Homo sapiens: one gene and its partners. The protein of the gene in region 1 purifies or fractionates together with the protein of each later gene. This does not show direct contact. Each region holds a gene or a part of one and is shown in the gene's direction. Other genes may lie near its edges. The genes, in order: NFIA, ADAR, FOXP4, TRPS1, RBM25, KDM6A and LHX4.

Region 1 (3,500 bases):
CACACTACTTTTTTTTTTTAACTAATCATTTATGCTATTCCTGGACATTTCTTGCAAGCTAATGATACTCTTTAGTTTTGATATTCTGGAATATTTTAAATCATGACTTGAGAAAGATACATTAGAAAAAATCAATACTTTAATTGTGCATATGAGTAAAGTTATACAAAATATTGTGGACTTTTACTGGCAGGTTCTTAACCTTTGGGGAGTAATACATTGTAAATACTTTTGATGCAAAATTGGGGACTTAAGTTATTCTTAATGACTAATTGACATAGTTGTTCTTGTTTAAGGATTTTTATGATGAGATATATGGGCATTTGGTTGGCAGGTAAACAGAATCCTGTTGGACACGAATGCATGCATGCAGTTTGCAGTTTTTTGAAAAGCATATTGGGAGTATCTACAGACACTTAAAATGCCATATTAGAATGTTTATTTTAAATGCTTATTATCATTAATCAAACTTTTAAATAAGATAACATTTTAACATAGATATGAATCGTTTGGAGCTAAGTTATACTTTGCATTATAAAATGGGGATGAAACTTTAAAATGAAGTCCTCCTTTTGGTGAAAGCTCACTTGGTAGTTTAAGGTAGACTCCAGGAGTTTTTTGCATAATACAACAGAGTCTTGGTCCCTAGCATGTCTTGTATATATAAGAAAATCAGTCAATGTGAAGTTCTGTTTCAAACCTAAAATTTATGTATTTTAGATCATTTCAAGGATGAGCTCAGAATTTAGTAACGTTTAGATGCTTTGTGGTTTGGCGTATACCTTTGCAGATAAACTGTGACTTGCCCCCCATGCCTGTCACCTAAAGTATGAGAATAAGAAATATTCTCAAACATCAGAAATTTTAAAAATGTTAATGGTTTATGGCAAGAATAACAATTCCTGTATTTTTTTCTATTCTCTCTCTACTTAAAGAATGCACACGTGTTACAAAAGCTGACTACTTCTCTTTTGGATTCTTTTATTGAAAAAGAGCAGTTTTGAAAGCTAAACTTGAAACATAGAACCTGAAATTTGTGCAGAGAGGAAAAAAGTCAGTTATTGAAGTAATTTATTATGTATTAATATATACTTACTTTTAAAAGCTCAGTCATATAGAGTGTTTAAATGATTGATTATAATTTGCTAAATTTTTAAACAACACGACTATTAAATATTTTACCTTATCAGTTCACATTTGAACATTTAAAAATTTAGTAATTGTGTTAATAATAATATTCTGGACATTACTGCTACCTGTGCCTTGAAAGTATATATTTAGTTAGATATAACAAACTGAAAAAGAATGCATTTTATAATATTTGTCTGTCCTACACCATTTAGCAAAAAAGCCATCGAATCTTTCTTTGGTTTCTAATCCTCATTTATTTGAAGGTAATCTATGTTTTGGAGAGGGGGTTATGTGGCAGAGAGAAGTTATGTAACAGTGTGGATTAGTTAATCAAAAGTTAGACGTACTCCGAAAGCTTTGTGGAGGTTACTGCTTAATTTTTTAAAAAATATATTTATATTTCCTAAGAAAATGTCATGTATAAGGATCAAACATTTTAAGCAAAACAGAAAGAAACATTTAAATATTTGAAACTCAATTTTTTTTTCAATTTTAAGAGGCATCTATGAGGGTTTTCCCGGCATCTTGTAAATATTGAAAATACCAGGTTCTGATTCCCTATGAGAAAAATCCTGAAATAGTATTTGCAAAAATTAAATAATCTATTTTTTAGGTATGATTATTACTGAAAGCACTTCACAATCATATTAGTAAATTAAATGTATTCATGTATGCTTTTCTTTGTTTTTTTTTCCTCTTTCTTCCCCCTTTTTGTTTCATTCCCATAGTATTAGCAATTATGTCTTGGGCATAGATCTTTTATTTTAGCCTAATAAATATCAAATTCAATCCTTCTTTTGTATATGAACCTCCCAAATTTGTCCTAGTTTTTGACTAAAAAAATTATATGTAGTTATAATATTTAAAAGGGGAATTTAGACACTAGCAAAATGAGTAAGAAACATATCAGAATCTACATGCAATATTTTTAGGGGGAAAGCCTTTGTTTTCATTGATTGTAGAGATGATTTTTTGCTCCTAGACTTCCATAAACATTGACTGGCATCTAAATGTTTAGGATTTGCCAATCTGGCGGCTGGGCCCTGGCTGTACTACAAGTGGTGAGGTCAAGGCTGGGACAAAATTAGATATGCCTTCCTTGAAATAGGGTTAAGATTATACATTGTTATAAGCATTTAGATAAACTTCACTTACTATCTAAAGGATGGGGAGCTAGGCCCGACAGTAGTAGCTGGTGTACCCTGGTGAACATATTAAAACAGTTTTTTAATTTTCAGCAGTTTTTTTATTTCCGATCATAAGAAATGATACTGATAGTTTTCTCTCCCACCTTCCCAGACTTCCCATAGGATCCTGTGTATGATTTTGGTAACAGAATGCTCTAATCAAATTTCAAGTGAAATGAGGAATTTCTTTCTTAAGGTGACCCGCTGAAGAAAAGTTGTTTTCTTTTGTTTTCATTCTACTTATATTTTTCTTTTTGTTCATTTTCCTAGGATGAATTTCATCCTTTCATCGAAGCACTTCTGCCCCACGTCCGAGCCTTTGCCTACACATGGTTCAACCTGCAGGCCCGAAAACGAAAATACTTCAAAAAACATGAAAAGCGTATGTCAAAAGAAGAAGAGAGAGCCGTGAAGGATGAATTGCTAAGTGAAAAACCAGAGGTCAAGCAGAAGTGGGCATCTCGACTTCTGGCAAAGTTGCGGAAAGATATCCGACCCGAATATCGAGAGGATTTTGTTCTTACAGTTACAGGGAAAAAACCTCCATGTTGTGTTCTTTCCAACCCAGACCAGAAAGGCAAGATGCGAAGAATTGACTGCCTCCGCCAGGCAGATAAAGTCTGGAGGTTGGACCTTGTTATGGTGATTTTGTTTAAAGGTATTCCGCTGGAAAGTACTGATGGCGAGCGCCTTGTAAAGTCCCCACAATGCTCTAATCCAGGGCTCTGTGTCCAACCCCATCACATAGGGGTTTCTGTTAAGGAACTCGATTTATATTTGGCATACTTTGTGCATGCAGCAGGTAAGTGCGATGGTGAGAATTCCTCCCACTTTCTTGTGTGTGTTTCTTTCCTGATGGCCTCCGCGTTATGCCGGATTCTTCCTGAGCTCCCCAAGTTGCAGGCCACGTACATGAAGCCAGTGTGGTTTCAAAGATTGAGAGAGGTGCCACCTTCATTCAGGTGAAAAAGCATAGCTTTGAGCGAATTCTCACTAAGTTCAGCTCTTTTGGTAAGTAGTGTTTTCAGAGGCGTTGGTAATCAGATATGTGATATGTTTAAATCACATTTTTTGATGAGGGGATGAGAGAAGCCTCGTGAAAACCCTTTTAATAAAGAGTATATTTTAACTGACAAATGATCTAGTTTAAAAGCATTTATTTTGGTATTGAGGCAATATTTT
Region 2 (3,500 bases), about 94 Mb from region 1:
TGCTTTCTATAGAGGCTTTTTTGGTTAAACATGCAGCTGGTCACACATTATACTTTCTTGTGAAACTTATGAGCACTAGCTGGTGGGGAGGCTTGGTAGACATCTTTGTGTGGAATTATTTATGCTACCCAACACTTTGGGATGCGGGAGTCAGATATTGGTGGTCATAGTGGTTTTGCATCAAGATGGCATCACTCTTGCCATGCAACCGGCATGTTTTCTTAATCTCTAAGGTCTATCACAAAGTGGAAAAGCAAGGTGTAAAGTGAGGGGAGAGGTGAAGATTGTCTGTATATGTCTAGAATATTTTCTTGAAGGATCGAAAAAACTGGCAACTGTGTTTGCTTCTGGGGAAGGAGGGACACTTTTATTGTACACTCTTAACTGTTTGAATTTTCACATGTTTGGCATCCAACTTGTCCATTTTAAAGTCATTAAGGAAAAAAGCTTATAAAAATGCTATCTTGTTACTTTAAATTTGTCTCTCCTTAATAGAAGTAATGTCAGCCGGGCGCAGTGGCTTACGCCTATAATCCCAGCACTTTGGGAGGCCGAGGTGGGTGGATCATTTGAGCTCAGTAATTTGAGACCAGCCTGGCCAACATGGTAAAACCCCATCTCTACTAAAAATACAAAAAATAGCTGAGCATGGTGGTATGCCCCTGTATGCCAGCTACTCCGGAGGCTGAGCAGGAGAATTACTTGAACCCAGGAGGCGGAAGTTGCAGTGACCTGAGATTGTGCCACTGCACTCCAGCCTGGGTGATGGAGTGAGACTCCGTCTCAAAAAAAAAAACAAAAAAATCAGAAGTAATGGCATTTCATTTATTCATATTTATGTGTTATTTGCATTTCCTTTTCTGTGAACCACCTGTTCTTGTCCTTTTCCAGTTTTCTTTCAGATTGTTACTCTCATGGATATGTAAGAACTTTTAACATAATTTTTAAAAGTAGCCCTTTGCCCAACATGACCCAATTTAGAACACACATCTGCCCACTGTTTAAGCCATCTGGAAAAGGAGAGGCCCAGTCTCCCTCCAGCTGCTCTTCTACTAATTCATATCCTTCATCTCAATAAGCACCTCCTTATCTTTAAGCACAGTCCTTCAGATGATAGGTTCAGTGCATTTCCTCTTTCTCTTCTGTGAAATCTTCTGTGAAATCCTTTCTAGGACTTCAAGTCAGCCATTCATTGAGAATGTAAGAACTTACTATGAACTAGATGGAAGATACAAAAAATTGCTGCCCCTGAGTGTGTAGCAGACATATAGCCATAGCAGTATTGAAATGTGCCATTGGAGGTGAATGCAGAGTGCTGTGGGGACACAGAGGACACTGCTGCCACTGTCTGCCAGGGAGCTGAGGAAGGTTGCATAGAGAGGGGAAATGCTAATTGAGTAACTACGTTTATTAACTATCTCGTACAATAATATACTTTAGTTGCTTCTTAATGTGAATTATGCTGGGTCTTTTTTTCCTTTCTGTCTACTGTGGCTGGTGACGTTAACTAATTTTATGACTTCTTTTCTGTTTTTTTTTTTTTTTTTTTTTGGAGATGGAGTCTCACTCTGTCACCCAGGCTGGAGTGCAGTGGCGCAGTCTCAGCTCACTGCAACCTCCGCCTCCTGGGTTCAAACAATTCTCTTGCCTCAGCTCCTCGAGTAGCTGGGATTACAGGCATCTGCCACCACATCTGACTATTTTTGTATTTTTAGTAGAGACAGAGTTTCACCATGTTGGCCAGGCTGGTCTTCAACTCCTGACCTCAGATGATCCACCCGCCTCAGCCTCCCAAAGTGCTGGGATTACAGGCATGAACCACCGCGACAGCCATGACCTTTAATATCTAAATGCTGGAGACCACTCAGAGCTCCCGATTCCTCCATCTAGTTGCTTACTTGTCACCTCTGTTTGGATTAACATCCCTAATATGACATGTCCAAAGCAGAACTCTTGGGTTTTGCCCCCTTCGCTTCATTTCCCCCAAGTCTTTCCCAGCTTAGTAAGTGATACCACTGTCTACCCAGTGGCTCAAGTCAGAAACCTGAGGATCATCTTTTCCTCTATCTCCTTTACCTCCTTCGTCAACTCATCCTTAAGTCCTATTGGTTATACTTAGAATTTCTATCCCAAATCCCTTCCTCTTCTTTCCACCTCCAGCGTCAGCACTCTAATCCAAGCCACTGTCTCATCTAGACTGTCACAATAGCCTCCTAACTGATCTTTATACTTTATTTACTCAACACTTATTTATGGAGTATCTTCTATTTTTTTTAGAACAGGAACCAAACATTAACCAATAGTCACCTAAAGAAATGTAAGATCTCATATTTGATAAGTATTCCAAAGGGCTGGAGTTGCAGCGAGAATCAATTATAGCACAGTTTGACTTAGGAAGGAGAGGGGGAAGGGCTTCCCCAAGAAGTACTGCCTGAGCTGAGACTTTAAGGATGATGAAGAGAGAAAGACTGAGGGTTCTAGGCGAAGGACACTGTTAAATCCTGTGGTGGGAGAAGCGCAGAGCTGGCAAAGAGGCTGAGAGGAGGCACTTATGGCAATAGCCCCATTTGGCTAGTGGCTACCATATTGGATAGCACAGCTCTAAAGGATTCTAGTTGCATAATTAACAAACTTTATCATATATGTAAATATATCAGTATAAAACTTTGCACGTAAGAGTTCATATTCTTTTCAAACACATGGGGCAGTCATGAAATTCTCCTGGATCCCTGAGGTAAAGATACTACACAATCTGTCCCTCCTGACCGCCTTCACCATCTTCTTTTCATGCCACTGTCCCTCTCATTCTGAACTTAAGCCCACTGGCCTGCACGGGCCTGCCAGCATGGACAAAGAAAAGAGTGAAGGCATTTAGTTGCTTCGGATCATCAAGGAACAGTGAGAAACTCCATGTGGTTGAACATAAACGTTGATTCCTTTTACTGCCTGAGCTGCTAAGTCTTGAAACTGAAGCCTCTGTTATATGCAGTTAGAGTATCCAAAGCTGGGTTCTCAGCCAGTAGATTAGGATCTGGTTGAAAGCTAGGATTCTTGATGCCTTGTCTGGTACATTTCCAAGCTGTTTTGCTCCACCATGCTCTTCCCTCTGTGTTTGGAAATTACCAGCCGGAGCGGTAGAAGCCACCTCCCTGCTCCACTTGGGCACTTTATTGTCAGCGCAGCTCATGCGCCCAAGATCCATTCCTTACCCCAGAGTTAGCTTAAGCCTGCCAGGAGTCAAAAAAACAACTCCCAGCAAAACCTGGGTCCCTGGCCTAAGGCCGACCTTGACCTAATGACCTCTCCAGGTCAAGTCCCCTTGAGCTAATAGGAAGTAAATGAGGGAATGGAGTTGGGCGCTTTAAAAATCAGACAGTGTATGAAGTAACAGTGACTTGTGGGGAGAAAGGTAGTCCCTTCTGATTTCTGCTTAAGAAGAGAGTCCAAGTTGGTGCTAGCATTTCGTTAAGCCTTCCTCATACTTCATAATCTTCCTTTAT
Region 3 (3,500 bases), on another chromosome or scaffold:
CCACAACCTCAGCCTGCACAAGTGCTTCGTCCGCGTGGAGAACGTCAAGGGTGCCGTGTGGACTGTGGACGAGCGGGAGTATCAGAAGCGGAGACCGCCAAAGATGACAGGGTATGTGGGTCCAGAGCTGGATGGGCTGTACCTGCCCAGGGGGCAGGAGCCAACTCACCCCCACCCCCTACCTCTCCAGGGTACACATGTGCACCAGATCCTTCCTGGCTGGGGGAAGGGGTGTGGGGAGAAAGGAGCAGAGGAGACTAGTGCTTGGGGACAGGGGGCTGGAATCCGGAAGTGATGGATAATCAGAAGGCAGACATTTATGTCCTCTTCTGTCCTCACTCTGACTGAGGGAAGGGGCCAAGAAGGAGGCCTGGTAGCAAAGAGAGACAGGGGCCCCAAGTAGCCCTGGCCAGAGCTGGCACACAGGCAGATGCCAGCCAACGGGCCATGGGTGAGGGGCTGCCACCCCCAGGGCACCCGCTCTCTCAGCTCATCAGGATGACTAGACCTCTGAGGTCCCGCGACCCCACCAATTCATCTTACGGCAGAGGAGAGCCAGTGAGGGCCAGGGGCTGGCAGGAGGCCCCAGAGCAGATTTGTGGCAGAGCTGGTTCCAGGACCAGGTCTCTGCCCTCCTGGTCTTTTGTGCTCAGCTTCACTTCACCACCTGGCATTTTATTTATTTACTTATTTATTTATTATTTTTTTAATTTTATTATTTTATTCATTTATTTTTTTTGAGAAGGAGTTTTGTTCTTGTTGCCCAGGCTAGAGTGCAATGGCACGATCTCAGCTCACTGGAACCTCCACTTCCCGGGTTCAAGCAATTCTCCTGCCCCAGCCTTTCGGGTAGCTAGAATTACAGGTGCCCACGACCACGCCCGGCTAATTTTTTTTGTATTTAGTAGAAATGTGGTTTCACCACGTTGGTCAGGCTGGTCTCGAATTCCCAACTTCAGGTGATCCACCTGCCTTGGCCTCCCAAAGTGCTAGGATTATAGGCGTGCACCAGCGCACCTGGCCTATTATTTTTTTGAGACAGAGTCTTGCTCTGTTGCCCAGGCTGGAGTGCAGTGGCACGATTTTGGCTCACTGCAACCTCCACCTTGTGGGTTCAAGCGATTCTCCTGCCTTAGCCTCCCGAGAAGCTGAAATTACAGGCGCCCACCACCACACCCAGCTAATTATTTTACTTTTGGTAGAGACGGGGTTTCACCCTGTTGACCAGGCTGATCTCGAACTCCTGACCTCAGGTGATCTGCCCGCATCGGCCTCCCAAAATGCTGGGATTACAGGCGTGAGCTACCGCACCTAGCCTCCACCTGGCAGTTTAAACAGAAACTGAGGAGCCTGGGACAGGGTCAGGACCTCCCTTTGGCTTCCACGTAGCAGCAGTGGCCTTCTCCCGACCTCAAACAGCCCCACCCCAGCCACCTGCTTGCTGTGCCCCTTGGGCCAGAGCCCCTGGGTAAGGAGAGGAGAGCAAGTTAGATGGATGTCTCTGAGGTGTGGGGTGTCTGCTCCCCTCAAAGATGCCTGCTTACCAGGCAGGAGCCTTTGCACCCCAGGCAGTGTGCAGCCTGGAGAATGGAGGGAAGCCATCCCCTGGTGAATGCCTAGGGGCCAGTCTCCAGGCCTGGCTGCGCTTGCACCTCTGCTTCTCACCAGTTTGGTGACCTTTGGCTGTTTCCTTAAGCTCTGTGAGAGCTCTGTGATGGTGTCATCACTGGAAGAGGGACAGCCCCCAGCCACTGCTTTTCCTGTCCCAACTCCCGAACACCTTCCCGTGCAGAGAAGCCTTCTGTATGGAGGCTTCCATACAGAAGCCTCCATGTGGGACAGGCTGAGCATATGTCTGACATGTCCCAAAATCTAGGATGGCAAGACAGTGTGGGCAGACCAGGTGTGTAACTACTGAGACTATAGATTAGACCTTGCCAAACATTGGAAAATCTAGACCGGAGAGAAAACGGGTGGGGGGGCAGCATGCTGTGAAGGCAGACACTGGGGGGATGCCAGTTCCCACTTCCCAGCTCCGAGACCTGGACAGGTCCCTGAACCAAGCCCATCGCACCCACCTGTGAAGGGGCTGCTCCTGCAGGGCCAGTTGAGCGTGAAGACCGAATCAGACCAAGTACACACACAGCTCCAAGACAGCGGCTGATCCGCCCTGGCCTCCCGGAATAGGGAATGGGACCCATTCCCAGCACAGGCCGTTACTTAGTGAGAGTAAAGAGATGCGAATGAAGAGCTAAGTGAATGAGTGAGCCAAAGATGGCCTTCTCTGTCCTCCAGGAGCCCCACCCTGGTGAAGAACATGATCTCTGGCCTCAGCTATGGAGCACTTAATGCCAGCTACCAGGTGACCTGCCCAGAGCCCACCCACTCACCTCTACCTCCCGCCCCCTTGCTTTCTCATACAAGAGACCCCCATCCTCCCCTGCAGAGGACTCACCAGAGGAGGGAAGGAGGGTGAAGACCCAAACTCTCCGAGACCCCACCTCTCTGCCCCACCCCAACTCGGGGCCAGCCTCCACCTCTGCTTTCAAGGCTGGGTTCAGACAAGGCAGGCAGCTGGGAGGATGGCATACCTATAGCATCCCCTTTCCTGGTTTGTCAGTCTGGGGGTTCTCTGTTCCCTGGGAGAGGGGATAAGCCAGGCCCAGGTTCCAGGAAAGCTAGGAGGTAGGAGGTCGGGGGGTCAGAGTTCCAGCCATGGGGGAGGGGTGCTACATTCAAAGGCTGAGTTGGGGCTTGGGGGTTGCCCAGACAGATCCGCCCGTGGGGCCAGTAGGCAGACACACAGGCAGCTCTCTAGTGGGCGGGGAAGGCACAGCACTTGACTGAGTGTGCCCCATCCTGTGGAGCCACTGACGAGGCCCAACCCTGTGCCCCTGCAGGCCGCCCTGGCCGAGAGCAGCTTCCCCCTCCTCAACAGCCCTGGCATGCTGAACCCTGGCTCCGCCAGCAGCCTGCTGCCCCTCAGCCACGATGACGTGGGTGCCCCCGTGGAGCCGCTGCCCAGCAACGGCAGCAGCAGCCCTCCTCGCCTCTCCCCGCCCCAGTACAGGTGAGCACACAGCACGGACCCCCACCCACCCCAGCACCCCTCAACCACCAGGGAGGAGGCGTCATCCCCCACCCTGGGTGGGGTTCCCCATCCCACCCCCACCACGCCTCTCCCCAGGACAAGTGGCTTCTCTCTTCCTTCCCTCAGCCCTCTCAGCCCTCCCTTGTCCCACCTGCCTGTTCTTATCCCCTCTCCCCACCTCCCCACCTTCCCACCTTCTCCTCCCCATTTTCCCCCTTTCTTATTTTTCCTCCTCCTCTCTTCTCTTTTTTTTTTTTTTTTTTAAGACGGAGTCTCGCTCTGTCACCCAGGCTGGAGTGTAATGGCAAGATCTTGGCTCACTGCAACCTCTGCCTCCTGGGTTCAAGTGATTCTCCTGCCTCAGCCTCCCAAGTAGCTGGAATTATAGGTGCCTGCCACCATGCCCAGC
Region 4 (3,934 bases), on another chromosome or scaffold:
TTCTCCTTTTAGCACAAAATTACTTTAAACTGACTTTCACCAGAGGAAAAACATGCCACTTAAAGTCACCCAACTGAAGAAAATGAAGTCCAAACGCCCAAGAAATGTTTACTTTGTTTTTAACACCTACTATACTTTGAATCCTGTCATGGTAATGTTTTATGCATTGTTGATCTTTAGAAGTCAAAAAAAAAAAAAAAAGCTCAATCCAGTGAACTTTATGTTGAGGCAATTTCTCTTAATAATGAGAGTATATGGAGATGTAAAGTAGGTAAAAAAGAATGTCACGCTTAATTCAGAGTTCCTTATCTGCTACTAAAACCCAAACTGCATGTATTAATCTTGCAGCATTTGAATAATGTTCCCATTTTGTCTGTTTTGTGGTACCCCCTTAAAGCACCCATTGAGTTTCTGGCTTCTCTTTAGCTCAGAAAACCATAGCAACCTCAGTCCGCACTTCTCCAACTCAGGATAGAGTTCAAGTTGTTCTCCTCAAGCCTTCTTGCCGTGAAAATCGTGGGGAATCCTGATCACCAACTAGGTGTCCTAAGACTTCTTGCCACAGATAAAGGGCGGGGGAGGGGGCGCACACGCACACACACATCCTGCGTCGTTTAATTGGGAGAGAGAAGGGAAAGTAACAACAGAAAAGGTAAAAGGACTTTGAGAGTTCTTTAAATTGTTTCTGTTAGCATCTCTGAGTGTCTGGGGAACGTCGGTTTGGCGGCCACGCACTGCCCCCCACCTGCCCCCCACTACCCCAAGGTAAGTCCTCGTCTTTATCACATTATTCCTAACGCGTTCGGATTTTTCCTCCTTTTCCAGCCCGCACGTTCACAGACGGGAGGTGGGGGAGGGAGGAGGGGGGAGAGGCGGGGCGGGAAGGTAGCCGGGTCCCTGCACCGCGCCGCTCTCATTTGCGGCGCTCCGACTCGGGCGAAGTTCTCGCGCAGCCGGCTCGCCGCGGCCGGGGCCGGTCCCGGCGGGCGGCGGCGGCGGGTGCTCGGAGCCGGGCGGGGCGGCGGCGGCGGCGCGGGGACGCGCGCTGTCTCTTTAAGGGAGCTCGGTCTGGGGTGGCGCTTTCCTCCGCGAAGGCTCCTTTGATATTAATAGTGTTGGTGTCTTGAAACTGACGTAATGCGCGGAGACTGAGGTCCTGACAAGCGATAACATTTCTGATAAAGACCCGATCTTACTGCAATCTCTAGCGTCCTCTTTTTTGGTGCTGCTGGTTTCTCCAGACCTCGCGTCCTCTCGATTGCTCTCTCGCCTTCCTATTTCTTTTTTTTTTTTTTAAACAAAAAACAACACCCCCTCCCCTCTCCCACCCGGCACCGGGCACATCCTTGCTCTATTTCCTTTCTCTTTCTCTCTCTCTCTCTCTCTCTCTCTTTTTTAATAAGGGTGGGGGAGGGAAAGGGGGGGGAGGCAGGAAAGACCTTTTTCTCTCCCCCCCGCAATAATCCAAGATCAACTCTGCAAACAACAGAAGACGGTTCATGGCTTTGGCCGCCGCGCCACCATCTTTCGGGCTGCCGAGGGTGTTCTTGACGATTAATCAACAGGTAAGGAGGGGAGGCCCGAGCGGGCCGCGGGGCCGGGGGCTGCGGGGGGCGCGGGGGGCGCGGGCGCCCCTCGGCCGGGCCCGGGGCGCCGCGACGCGAGTGCAGCGCCCGCTCGTGTGCGCGCAAAATGTGGGCGATCGCGAGCGGGGAGCCCTGGGAATTAAAAGTGACTTTCTTTGAAAAAAAAAAAAAAAAAAAAAAAAGCAGAGGGAGAGTGTGCAGAAAGCCAAGCGCAGGCTTCTCGGGTTTCACATGCATTTTCTTTCTTCCTTTTTGAGCGTGTGATTTCTTTCTTTCTTTCTTCTCTTCTGCTCCCTTTTTCCCCCTTCCTCTCCTCCTTTTGGTGGGTCTGAGGCATCTGAGCTTTGGAAACCAGCGACTTCAAACTGCAGTAGCCCCTGGAGTCAGCAGGGTCAAGTTCAGCCGCCGGGGAGGAGGAAAAACAAATCCCCATTTGCCAAAAAAAGAAGTTTCAGGCCGGTGCCCCCTCCCCCTCGCAGCCCCACTCCCCCTCGCTGTCTCTTTCTGGCTGATTTTAATTCTCTCCTACCGGGCGCAGCGGAGGAGCTGGAGGTGGTTGGACCCGAGGGGCCGCCGCCGCCGCCGCCACTGCAAGTTTTCTGGGGGCTCGTGACAAGCGGGGCGCAGACTAGGCACCAGCATGCAGAGTAGTAAGTTGGGCGAACTCGGGAGGGTCGGGAGGGTCTCAGAGACGGGCCTCCGTATGGTCTCCAAAGTGGGAAAACAGCACAGGACTGCCTTTGGCTTTGAAGAGTTTGCAAATGCAGGCTTCAAACTTTTTTCCCTTAAAGGCCCAGCTGGGCTCTGGAGAAGGCGGGTGTCGCATCCCTTGGTGCACCCGCCTCAGAGCGGCTCAGGACAGCTTGGCCGAGCGGTCTGTGCCCTGTCCGTACCATGTGGCAGGGCCTTGCAGCCCGGGCGCTTCCGTAGGGGCTGAGGAAGGGGCAGACTTCCTCTGCGATGCGGTTGATGCGCCATGTGTCGCGCGGGTCAGGGGACACTGGCCGGTGATTAAATGCCTGACAGCGGTGGGACATCCAAGCGGACAGACGCTTTGCCTTCTGTCTGGTTCCTGTTTGGGATCTAGAGAAACGCATCTTTGAAAGGCCAAGGCAAACATCGCTGTCCCTCCAAATAACTCCAGGATTATAGGACCCCAGGAATAATTTGAGGGTGAGGCGGCGGTGGGAGCTGTTTGAAGTGTAAAGCTGTTTTTGTGGCTGGGAAAGCTTTTTCGTTAGTACCTGTCTGAGATGGTGGTGTTTCCCCCTTTCCCCAGGGAAGTCAGCAACTGTTTTATGGCCCCAGGACTCTAAAGCAATTTAAGTTAGAGGGTGAGAAGGACTGGTGGGTTTCAGAGGGAATCTTGGACTTATTAAATTTTAGGACCGGCTTTACTTCCCTCTATCTTTTTAGGCCTCATATTTGATGCTTTGAAAGTTTTTTGAGTAAGCCATTGATCTTAATGATGAATCTAAATTATGATAGAATATTCATTCTTATGCCATTTTGGAAAATCACGGCTAGAGTTTAAGCGAGGTAAGTGAAGTGAGAAGCTCAGCGGAGGAGTTAAATCTGAGACAAGTTAGGCCTATTCATTGAACTTTTGTAGATTCATTGAACTTTTGTAAACACACCAGGTGAACAGGAAAGGAAAGGGTCTGGGAGAGATAATAAGTACAAAAGAAAAATACAGATAGGGCCTGAGACAAAATTACAAAGAAATGATAACTCTGGGCCTGGTTGTTGGCTAAAACTTGATTGTTCAAAGCAAAAATAAAATAGGAACCTTCCAACAATTCTTCAAAGTCCTCCAGCTCTGAAGCTAAAACCTATGGATCTTGCTGGCATCATGTTACTTTCCTGCTGGTTTTAGAAAAAGTTGATCATTTAGAAAAGGCTGCCAGAGTTAAAAATGCAAGGGACAGCAGAGGAAAGTCATGCGGGCAGCCAGTTCTTGACGTGGACAAAATGAGAATGAAAGTTTCTGAACTCACTGTTGTGAAGTTTTACATGCCGCTCATTTGCTTAGAAGGCTCTCTCAGATATTCCACCAGTTAACGTATAAAAGCAAACAGGATCTAAAATCGTGTGGGCTTTTTTTTTTTTCTTTCCCCAAGTATGCCAGGGTTGTGAATAAATACAGGGTTTGTATGGGAAGATGAAGCGTTTCCTGTAAGTTCTGATGCTGACAGGACAGTCTGGAAATGATACCAACATTTTGAGGATTTTTTTTTTTTACCTTTAAGTGAAAGTTTATTAATGATATGCTTAATCTTAACAAGTCAAACATATTCTTAGAGTTTCTCTCTCCTTGGATTTCATAACTTCCTTTTAAAGCTACACCT
Region 5 (3,500 bases), on another chromosome or scaffold:
TCAGACTTAAATTAGATTCAGGGGGCAGCAGGATAACATACACTGTAGTGTATTTCTGGGGGCAGTTATTTAACTTGATCTTAGGAATACCTTTTCTTTAGAGCTGAGATTAAAATTTACATTTTATATTTGTATAGATTTAAGTTGAGTGGGGGAGATTTTAAACAGTAGGTCAGTGGTTACCAGACTTACCAAATTTTAGATGCATGGAAGAACTGTAAATTCCCATAAAGCTAATCTATTCATTGACCCCCACCATTATGATAGAGATCATATGGTGACTAATGCAAGATGAAACTCTCAGCTTGGAAAGTAACAAGGAATAGGATGTAAGTATGAGCTTCTGTTTTTTATTATATTTATGGATGCCCCCTCAGAAAAATATGCAAAGGGGTAACTGGCTTGGAAATGGGTATTTATGCATAGTAAATCCCACTCACGAGTTTTGCCTATTTGAAGCTTCTCTCAATGACAGTGCATCTGTGAATGTTCGCTGGTGTTGAAAATGATGCTTTTGAACGGTGCAATGCAAACACTGCATGAAATGTATTTTGATGGTCGAGATAATAAGGTGTTGCTGGTTCTTACTGATAGACTGAGAGATCTTTAACTCAGTGAAATGTTAAATGTTCATTTTCTCTTTTATTCTTACTTTTTCCCATTGCTTTCAAAATCTGCAGTTCACAAATAATGCCAATGAATCAGTGCTGCTGAACACTTACTATCCAGATGCCCAGCCCTTGCTCACAAACACAATGCTTTTTCAAGAATTAAATGTGTCTAAGAGCACAAACATAATTCTCCCAAAATTAATTTTGAGAGTTGAAAAGGTGGTCTATGGGAAATCATTTTAGATGAATAATTTTGGTTAGGTATAATACTGAAATTCAGGACCGAGTAAGCTTAAAAATGGTATATGGTTGTGTGTGTGGTTTACCCCCTTTTTGTTTTTATTTATTTGTTAAACCCTGTCATGTTATTGGTAAATTATGAGGAAATCATGTTTTAAGAAAAATTCAAAAATATATTTGCTTTAAAGTTTGGGAATCTGTTAGGCATTTTACTGCCTTAGTATTATTTCACTGGAGGGAATGTTTTGAATTTTCAGAATGTCTTTTCAAAATAAAAAGAAATCAAAATGAAAAACCAAAACAGTTGTTTTTTATTGGGTGGTTTGGCTAAAAGGGTTGTTTGAAACTCCAGTAACAAAAAATGAGCTCAGTGAACCTTTGCATGTTTTGGTATGAGTTTATTAAATAACCACAGACTGTCAGGGTATCAGCGTGGCAGGGGGCGTCCATTTACAGCACGGATGAGTCTGAAGAGAGAATAAGGTAAGATTTATGATTTTTTAATCTGTCCTTTCCTCTTCATGACTTTCTTACATAATTTTAGACTCACCTCATTTCCCTTCTCCAGTCTTTCTTTAAAAATATACATGTATGTTTACATGTATACCTGTATTTGTATACATGTGTGTATATATATATATATATATATCTCATATATAAACTTCAGGAAACATTTAGTATGGACTAGATTCACTCACTTTTTCATTTACTTAGAACCAAACTTTTGAAATGAGTTCTGAAACAAATGGTTATTTATATAACTGAATATAAGGAGCACAGTGAAATAAGCAAGAATTAAAAATTGAGGAATTCTACAGGAAAAATTAGTATTGGAACAGCTAAAATATTCTGTAAGTATCTATTTCAGAAATAAACAAATTTCTTTATAAGTGTATGCCATTGAGGTAAGTTTTATATAGTCTAGCCTCATTTTACAATATAAATTTTTATATTCATTGGAACTGTTTCAGAAATGAGATTTTTCCCCCTTTAATAGCTGTTAGTTTCTGTCCTCTTTCTATCATATCTTATTTCATCCCTTTGTAATTTCAATGTATTCAGTTTTGACTTTGCCCGTATTCTACTTCGATATAGACTGGCACAGCAACTGAATATATTGCTCATACATTAGCTTTCCTTTCATAACCTGCTATAAGTTCTCTGATCCATGAGGAAGAGAAAAAGAGTATCTGACAGGTAAGATTGCTTTTTAAAGTTGTTTTAAATGCATTACATGACTGAGAAAAGAAAAATGCACATTTTATTGTTGCAGTTTAAAATTTCATTTTGGTGAAACTAAACGTGAAACAAAAGGGATAAATGTGTTTTGTTTTGTTTTGTTTTACCTGTTTGGGGTATTTTTTTCTGAGTTTGTGTAGAAACCGTGTGGTACACTGGTAATCTTGTCAGGGTACAAACTTGGTCTGACTTTGTTATTTGGTTTATTTGTGAACCATGTACTTGCTCTTCCTCCCAGAAACATAGCTTGTAGGCAAGGTTAATCCAGTGTTGGCGATCCATGTCCTAGCACAGCATCTGTAAGTTAATGCACAATCGTTCCTTCCAAGGATGGATTTATCATTGTAAATATATTTTCATTGTCTTACAGGCATAATGGGCATAAGTATGTTGCTTTTAAATATTTTAAATTAAACTATTACAGTTACATATATTTTGCTTGAAGTGAGTGATTTTCAAACTTTTTGTATTTGGTGGGCTGTCCATCTTGTAATGGTGGGAGTAAATGTTTCCATAGATGATAAGGCAGTTCTTGGCTGAATTCAGCTTGTGTTTCTTTTGGAGGGTGGGCAAATCAGAGGGCAGAGATTATTTAGTTGCATTATAGGTATTCTTCTATACCACTTGCCCTTTGAAACCCTCAACTTGAGGTAATGTGCAGTCTGGGGTTTTAATTAGTATTAATAATCTTGTGGATTTACAGAAATCTATAATGCACAGAGTTGAGTTTTAACCAATGATCGTATTCATAGAAAATATTTCGAACCACCACATTCTTCATGGTCATTTTAGTTAGTACATAGTCATTGAGTGGCCAGCCACACCTGACACAATCTCCCAGCATCCAAGATTGGAGATTCCTGGTCTGTGTAGAGTATATGGTTTTGCACGAAATCTTTCTAGTCTTGTGATTGCTTCAGTTTAATTTGTCACATAAAACCACAAGTATTTAATATTAATGTATCAGTGGTTTGGTGTTTTTGTTCCCAGTACTGGGCTTTGCGCCGGGAAAAATCTGAATACTGGAGCTACAGAGTTAACTCTAAAAGTGCTTTTATTGGTTTCTAGAAACTGGAAGAAGAGAAAGGCAAAAAGGAAAAAGAAAGACAGGAAATTGAGAAAGAACGGAGAGAAAGAGAGAGGGAGCGTGAAAGGGAACGAGAAAGGCGAGAACGGGAACGAGAAAGGGAAAGAGAACGTGAACGAGAAAAGGAGAAAGAACGGGAGCGGGAACGAGAACGGGATAGGGACCGTGACCGGACAAAAGAGAGAGACCGAGATCGGGATCGAGAGAGAGATCGTGACCGGGATAGAGAAAGGAGCTCAGATCGTAATAAGGATCGCAGTCGATCAAGGTAAGGCTTTACAGAAGTTACTGTTTCCTGATAGCTTTAAGAAAACTATCGGGTA
Region 6 (3,500 bases), on another chromosome or scaffold:
CGCCATGTTGGCCAGACTGGTCTTGCACTCCTGACCTCAAGTGATCCACCTACCTCAGCCTCCCAAAGTGCTGAGATTACAGGTGTGAGCCACTGCACCCAGCCCTAAGTATTAATTCTTATAAGTTAAATGGCAGTACATTCAATTAAAATGCACAAAAGTAAAATGAGCCTGCATTTACCAGAATAATGAAGAGCATTCATTCTTGTTTTTAATTTCTTTTTTTTTTTTTAAACAGGACATGGTTTACACTACATAAAGTATAAATATAGGGTATATAGGGTAAAGTTTTCTTCTAACTCTGGCCCCTACCCACTCAAAATGTGGCTGGTATTACTAATTTCCTATCTATCATTCCAGAGGTATGTTATGTATGTACAAGCAAATATACATCCCCCCCTTTCTCACATGTATTATTATTTTTCTTCTTTTTTACACAAATGATAGGATTCTTATTTGCTGTTAACAACATATTTTACAGACTTCTGCATGTCAATATGTGAAGAGCTTCCTTGTTCTTTTATGGTTACATCATATTTCTTTATATAGATGTAACACCTTTATTTAAGCAGATCAGTAATTTTGGACATTCAGGTTGTCTTCAGACTTTGCTTATTCCAGACAGTGCTGCTTTTAGCATACTTGTCAATATATTTTTAAGCTTCAAGAGTTTTCTCTGTGAATACCTAAGAATACTGTATGGATGAGTAAAATTTCATGCCCATCTATTACAAAGAACTCATAGTAAATCTTGTTCAGATGAATGCTTAGTTCATTCTTATATTTCTCAAGCTTATTAAAGGACTTCATCTTGGAGTGTGTGACTGTTGGTCAGAAGACAGTGTGTTTGACCAGATAGTGGTTCTGAGTTTAGTCATTTCAGGGAAAGGTTGCTTAGAATAATGATCTTATTTCCTAAATATATCTTTGACTATATTCTCTTTTTGTTCTTCTTCTAGCATTTGGAACAGCTCCGCGCAAATAGAAATAATTTAAATCCAGCACAGAAACTGATGCTGGAACAGCTGGAAAGTCAGTTTGTCTTAATGCAACAACACCAAGTGTGTATAGCATATTTTTCCCTGAAATTTGTTAGCATTTTGAGTATTTTTATTGACTCTAATGTCATTTTAGAGCATGTTTATGTTCATTTTTACTTTCTACTGGTATTTGACAGAATTTAGTAATCTCTGTATTTTAAAATACTGGTAATTGACGGAGATTTTTAGACAAAAGCAACTATAATTTTGAAGAAGATACTTTGTATTTTATTTATTTACATGATATTTCACATGTATTCTAAGGGTTTGTTTACATTATTTAGTACTGAGGCAAGGTTTTTAGGGCTTATTTAGTTTACAGGATCTGGCATATATGTAACAGAATGAAATTTTGAGATGTCCCCTCTTTTGTGATTGAGAGAAGGACCTATAAGTTCGGGGTCGTTTTCTATAATTTTCAGCTGCTTCCTTTTGTCATTACTAATGGGATTTTTTTTTTTTGAAACCGACTTTTGCTTTTTCAAGGAAGTTTATTTTAAAATGAACAAATACAATTTCTTGTTTTTAAAGTATGTATTTCTCAACTTAGAGAAATTAAGCATTTGGGTAAAATCACACATTCCCTAATTATACATCTTCATATTCATCTGGGGATTCATAGAGAATCCCCTATAGATTCTCTTCCCTATAGATTACACAACCAGCATTTACTTTTCCTTTGTTTTTTTGACAGATGAGACCAACAGGAGTTGCACAGGTACGATCTACTGGAATTCCTAATGGGCCAACAGCTGACTCATCACTGCCTACAAACTCAGTCTCTGGCCAGCAGCCACAGCTTGCTCTGACCAGAGTGCCTAGCGTCTCTCAGCCTGGAGTCCGTCCTGCCTGCCCTGGGCAGCCTTTGGCCAATGGACCCTTTTCTGCAGGCCATGTTCCCTGTAGCACATCAAGAACGCTGGGAAGTACAGACACTATTTTGATAGGCAATAATCATATAACAGGAAGTGGAAGTAATGGAAACGTGCCTTACCTGCAGCGAAACGCACTCACTCTACCTCATAACCGCACAAACCTGACCAGCAGCGCAGAGGAGCCGTGGAAAAACCAACTATCTAACTCCACTCAGGTAATAGGAGGACTAGCTTCCTTGTTGGCTTTTCACATAAATGTTTTTACTGGGTTTTATACACTTTGAGAGAAGAAGAGAGAAGTGTTTGGGGAACTGGTTTTATAAGAATTTTGTGGCACTACAATGTTACTACATTGTGATTCATTATGTACATACATGAGTATATCTTTGTTCCCTTTGTACAGTCTCTACCGACATAGATAACTTAGCAAATTTACAAAGGAAGAAAATAGATCATATAAATCACCCAAAATGCACCATTAATTTACAGTGGCATCATAAGCACATTTATGTAATATTACTTAGTTCATTTCTGCATAAACTGCCTACTTAAGATCAGGCACTAAACTAGGTGTTAGGTATTTGCTTTAGTGGGAGAAAAAGACCAGTGAATAAGTATTTACCATAATGACTGTGAAGTGTGACTTTGGTGGGAAAGTTCTATCAGAGTACCTACGAGAGCACATAACCAAGATGTCAGAGTCTTCCAGAAGCTAGAGTTTAGGGGAGGAGAGGGCTGGTGAAGTGTGCCTAGAAGATAGGTTATGAAGAGGGGAGGGTGAAATAAGAGGCTGAGGGAGAGGCCAAATTTATCTTGAAGGCAAAGTTGATCCACTAAAGTTTTTGAAACAGAGTAATGAATTGCATGCACATTATTTTTGTCAAGGAAATGGGTCATAATGTATTCAACGTTAGCACATTCGTTAGACATTTAATTTCTAAGTTTTTACTTCTGAATGTTTATGTGCATAGTATTTCCCATATTTTGGATTGTTTCCATGATATGGGTACTCGCTGAGGTGAAACTGAAGGGCCAAAGAGTAAGTTTTAAGAAAATGCTCTCAATATGTATAGCCAAATTGCTTGTACTTTTATTAATTTACTATGAGAAATATTTGACTTAAAAAGAGAAATATTTGGCTGATTGTCGGTTAGTCTTATATTATTGATAAAACTGAAATAAGTTCTTTTTCTAAGATTTTTAAGTTTATTCTTGAATTAATATCCTTGGTGGGACCCTGATCTAAAGTGATTAGTACTTTATTCATTCTTAGAGAAATACTGAGTACCTACTAGGTTCATTTCCTACTCAAGGCTCTGGGAATACATCAATAAAGAAAATATACTGAGATGTCTCTACTTGGTGTAGGTAAATAGATAGTAAACAAATAAGCAATACATATATAACATTAGATGATGGTTGTGATTAGTGCTATGGAAAAAAGCACTAATAGAAAGGGAACAGCAGAATACTAGAGATTGGTGGTAGGAGAGTTGCAGTTATAAATCAGAAGGGCAGGGAAGGCTTCTCTGAAAGATAGCATTTGGATGAGAGTTACAGGAGTGAGCCTTGAAGCTATTTGTGA
Region 7 (3,500 bases), about 120 Mb from region 1:
TGGGACGCATAGGGACTTGGAACCAGTTTAGCTGAAGAGAGGACAAAAGGAGTAATATTACCCACTTTGAGAAACCCACGGTTGGAGACAGACTGAAGCAGCAGTTTGCTGTGGCAGCACCAAATACATGGCTGCATAGACGGCTGAATTTGGAGAGGGCTGGCTGGGGTGCCGTTGAGGCGATTTTACTTTTGTAACAATGTTTTGCCTTTCTCCCTTCCTGGAATGAGTGTTAACAATGCCCATAACAGAGATGTGGGCAAATAGGGTCCACTGCTTTTAGTAAAATTCCATCGCGGTCTGGTGGCTTGAATTTCTCTTTCTTCCTCCCTCCTTCTCCTTCCCCTGTTCCCCCAATTTCTTCTGTCTATCCCTTCCTTCCTTTGCAAAATCTTTGCAGGGAGAAACATGGGATAGTGCAGGAATTCACGACACAGGGGTTTTACTCGGCGGGGGGGGCGGGGAGGAGGGCGGTCGTGTGTCCAGCAGGCTGCACCGTGGTGGAGCCATCTCTCTTTCTAGGCGCCCTGGGAGGGAAGCACAGGTGCTGGGTATAGGACAGAAGCCGCCCTGGAGCTGGGCTCTTATTGTCTGTGGTAGGAAGAAATCAACTAAAATTAGATGCCACTGTGAGGTTTTACCTTATTTAGTCCTCAATTTTATAGGATCCCTGATCAAAATGGAGCACAAGTCAACCATTTTGAGGCATTGCTTTTGGGGGTAGGTGGACAGGTTGGGTTTAATTGGTGAAAATGAAATGGATTCTCCCTTGGAAAATGGACTTTGGGGTTAACTGTATGAGCGGCTGACTGGAAAGTCGTCTTGGGAGGTGAGTCCTACCTCCTGCTGTAATTTTGGTGGATTTCTTTTCTCAGATCTCCCCACCCTGTTCCCTCTGTCAGTCTGGGTCTAGCCACAGATGTTTAACTGCAGTACCTCACCCCCACATGTCTTTAAAGTATAATTTGCTTTAATTATGATGTTAGGGGGTTAAGAGATTGGTTCTGGGAATAGCTTAATAGAGACAAAACTTGCAGCCAAATTAATTGAAAGTTTCTTGCTATGAGGGAAAGATTGCCAAACATATGGAATACTGTTACAGAGTGAGACATTAGAAAAATACATTGTAGAGATTTAGCAATGATTAAATGTGAAAATGGAGTGGAAATAGACGTGTCTACAACATTTCCATACACAAACATGGATTTGCTTAATGTAATTTTCTGTTTTATTTGCAATTACTGAGATATATGATATCCTACTGAAGAATACTAATTACGTGACAATATATCACCTAGGAGATAATCCCTGCAAATACATATTTACATTGTGTATTTCATTTGTTACTCGACTCCTTATGTTAAAATATCCAAATTACAGCCTTAAAATGATAACATCGAAATTATCTCCAGTTTACTTTTGAATTTGTTCTTTTATTGAAGAGGTTTCTATTTTTGACTAAGCCGAAAAAGAACAAAGGAGATTTTCAAAGGCACCCCAAGCCACCAAATAAAGCAAACAGTAAAAGTGGGAAGGATTCCGGAAAGCAAGTGAAGGGAAAGGACAGCTTCAGGTGTGATCATTTCTGATGTAAGAAGGATTTTCTGACTTTTTTTCTGGTTGCTAGTCATTTGTCAAGACAAACTAGAAAAAACTAGAAATTAGATAAAAAGACGTGAGTACACTGATGCATTTTAAAACATGTCAGTGCATATGATGATAGAGAATATGATTTACCTTCAATGCGATGCTAATTTTTAAAATTAGAATTTTTCTAATATTTTTGTGGCTGGCCCAGCTCTCTTTCTTTAATGCTGCTGTCATCATTGATGTTCAATGTGCCTTTTCTCTTTATGTTTTAAAGAATTAATGTTGGAATTTTGTGCTTTAGCTGTGTTATGTGATTATTACTAGGTTGTGAAAATCCCTTAAGAGGAATTTTATAAAAACATTTTGGAAAATTCTGTTATTGTCTCTTCAAGATACGCTGATTTAGAATAAGTGAAAATATAAAAACGAGAACTATAAACGGTTCAACAAAAATGAATGTTCTTTAATGACAAAGAGCCAGGGTTGGGGGGCGGCACACACCAGATTTGTCATGGAAAACTGAGTCGTGGGCCTCAGGTTTTCCCTGCGTGGGGACTGCATGGATGAATCAGGCCTTCTTCCTTTGGTCACAATTACCAGGTGATTTAAAAGGGGAATTGTGACCAGAAAACAGGATTTTATCATCAGCGGTGATGGTGGCTACTTTGAAATGGAAAGTTTTATTTTTGAAATATTTATCCAGTAATAGACCTCTTAGTTAATTTAATTTTAATGTAACTATACCTCCGTTATAAATCTTTGACCTGGACATTTCAGAACTCAGGTATGTGTTTAGGCAGGTGTGCCACAGCTTGGTATATCCTGTAGCTTCACCTTGTTGATGCATTTTAGAATTAGTTATTCCCCGACTAAATCAATGAGCCCCCCACTGACAGTATTTCCCAAGCCTGCCTTTAGAAAACCATCTTCCTTCTTTCTTACTCAGGGAACCTGAGGCAACAGAACAGCAATGTCTGCAATTTGTTGTTTTCTCTTCCTTACATGTGGGAAAGGAATGGAAAATTTCAAGAAAAACATTTGCATACTATTTCAGTTGCATATGTGATTCCTTAAAGCCCCATTTGGCGTCTCCTTTCAGTTAGTAGTCAGTAAAGAAACTTAACAAATAAATAAAATTAAACGTTTTTGGAAATACATATTGGCCAAATGTTATTTGAGACAGAGCTCAAAAAACTGCTTACTTCTGGAGGGAAATCACCAGCAAAAAGGTTTTGGGCAAAAATCCCAGATGGAGGTGGCTTTGATTGAGCACAGGTGGAAGCCATCAGACCCAGAGTAAAAGAAGGTTTAGTCCTAATTCGGCCTCAAACTGTGTACCCGTAGGGAAGCCCCTTATTCTCAGAACCTTTTAAACGTAGACAATGAATGTCCGCTTCACAGGGTGTCTGGGAGGAGGGAATGAGCTTGCCAATTTGAAAGTACTTGACCAAGTTTGGAGTGCTGGTGGTCTTAAGGCACTCAGAGACTGGGATCACAGCTCCCATTTCACAGACACAGCCGCCCCTGGGAGCACTGCTGGCTGTCCCAAGAGGATGGCCACCTGAGGGGGAATACTGTGGGGTCTGCAAACAGGGAGACCCGGAAGTGGCTCCCATGGACCCAGCTCCTTTTCTCGAAAGGAGCAAGAAAAACCTTGTCCTGAGCATTAGGCTGTCAAGTCAAAGCATGAAACAAAAAGAACACTTCATCCAGAAGGCAGTTAAAAAGCAAAGGGAGTTAAAAAGCAAAAGCCTCACAGGAGGCACATCAAGCTGGCACATCAAAGTACAAACTTTACAAAATATTAATCTGGTCTCAGAGCATCGTTAAATAAACATTATTCCCTTTTAAAATTATTATAATAGAGGTAGGGGCTCACTATGTTGCCCAGACTGGTCTCGAACTTCTGG

What was found.
Region 2: the proteins of NFIA (region 1) and ADAR purify together in Homo sapiens (affinity purification with mass spectrometry, with the first as the bait; one large-scale study listed by BioGRID). This does not show direct contact.
Region 3: the proteins of NFIA (region 1) and FOXP4 purify together in Homo sapiens (affinity purification with mass spectrometry, with the first as the bait; one large-scale study listed by BioGRID). This does not show direct contact.
Region 4: the proteins of NFIA (region 1) and TRPS1 purify together in Homo sapiens (affinity purification with mass spectrometry, with the first as the bait; one large-scale study listed by BioGRID). This does not show direct contact.
Region 5: the proteins of NFIA (region 1) and RBM25 fractionate together in Homo sapiens (co-fractionation; one large-scale study listed by BioGRID). This does not show direct contact.
Region 6: the proteins of NFIA (region 1) and KDM6A purify together in Homo sapiens (affinity purification with mass spectrometry, with the first as the bait; one large-scale study listed by BioGRID). This does not show direct contact.
Region 7: the proteins of NFIA (region 1) and LHX4 purify together in Homo sapiens (co-immunoprecipitation; one large-scale study listed by IntAct). This does not show direct contact.

Annotation. Positions count from the first base shown.
Region 1 is NC_000001.11:61,085,561-61,089,060, forward strand, and holds part of NFIA (nuclear factor 1 A-type), read left to right. Parts: intron 1-2,588; coding exon 2,589-3,120; intron 3,121-3,500.
Region 2 is NC_000001.11:154,591,187-154,594,686, reverse strand, and holds part of ADAR (double-stranded RNA-specific adenosine deaminase), read left to right. Parts: intron 1-3,500. UniProt on the Homo sapiens protein: Catalyzes the hydrolytic deamination of adenosine to inosine in double-stranded RNA (dsRNA) referred to as A-to-I RNA editing.
Region 3 is NC_000006.12:41,594,881-41,598,380, forward strand, and holds part of FOXP4 (forkhead box protein P4), read left to right. Parts: coding exon 1-111; intron 112-2,295; coding exon 2,296-2,362; intron 2,363-2,900; coding exon 2,901-3,070; intron 3,071-3,500. UniProt on the Homo sapiens protein: Transcriptional repressor that represses lung-specific expression.
Region 4 is NC_000008.11:115,666,176-115,670,109, reverse strand, and holds the start of TRPS1 (zinc finger transcription factor Trps1), read left to right. Parts: upstream 1-1,134; 5' UTR 1,135-1,565; intron 1,566-2,096; exon of another isoform or gene 2,097-2,226; coding exon of another isoform or gene 2,227-2,236; intron 2,237-3,934. UniProt on the Homo sapiens protein: Transcriptional repressor. Binds specifically to GATA sequences and represses expression of GATA-regulated genes at selected sites and stages in vertebrate development. Regulates chondrocyte proliferation and differentiation.
Region 5 is NC_000014.9:73,100,034-73,103,533, forward strand, and holds part of RBM25 (RNA-binding protein 25), read left to right. Parts: intron 1-3,158; coding exon 3,159-3,445; intron 3,446-3,500. UniProt on the Homo sapiens protein: RNA-binding protein that acts as a regulator of alternative pre-mRNA splicing. Involved in apoptotic cell death through the regulation of the apoptotic factor BCL2L1 isoform expression.
Region 6 is NC_000023.11:45,061,688-45,065,187, forward strand, and holds part of KDM6A (lysine-specific demethylase 6A), read left to right. Parts: intron 1-959; coding exon 960-1,061; intron 1,062-1,734; coding exon 1,735-2,130; intron 2,131-3,500. UniProt on the Homo sapiens protein: Histone demethylase that specifically demethylates 'Lys-27' of histone H3, thereby playing a central role in histone code. Demethylates trimethylated and dimethylated but not monomethylated H3 'Lys-27'.
Region 7 is NC_000001.11:180,236,764-180,240,263, forward strand, and holds part of LHX4 (LIM/homeobox protein Lhx4), read left to right. Parts: intron 1-3,500. UniProt on the Homo sapiens protein: May play a critical role in the development of respiratory control mechanisms and in the normal growth and maturation of the lung. Binds preferentially to methylated DNA.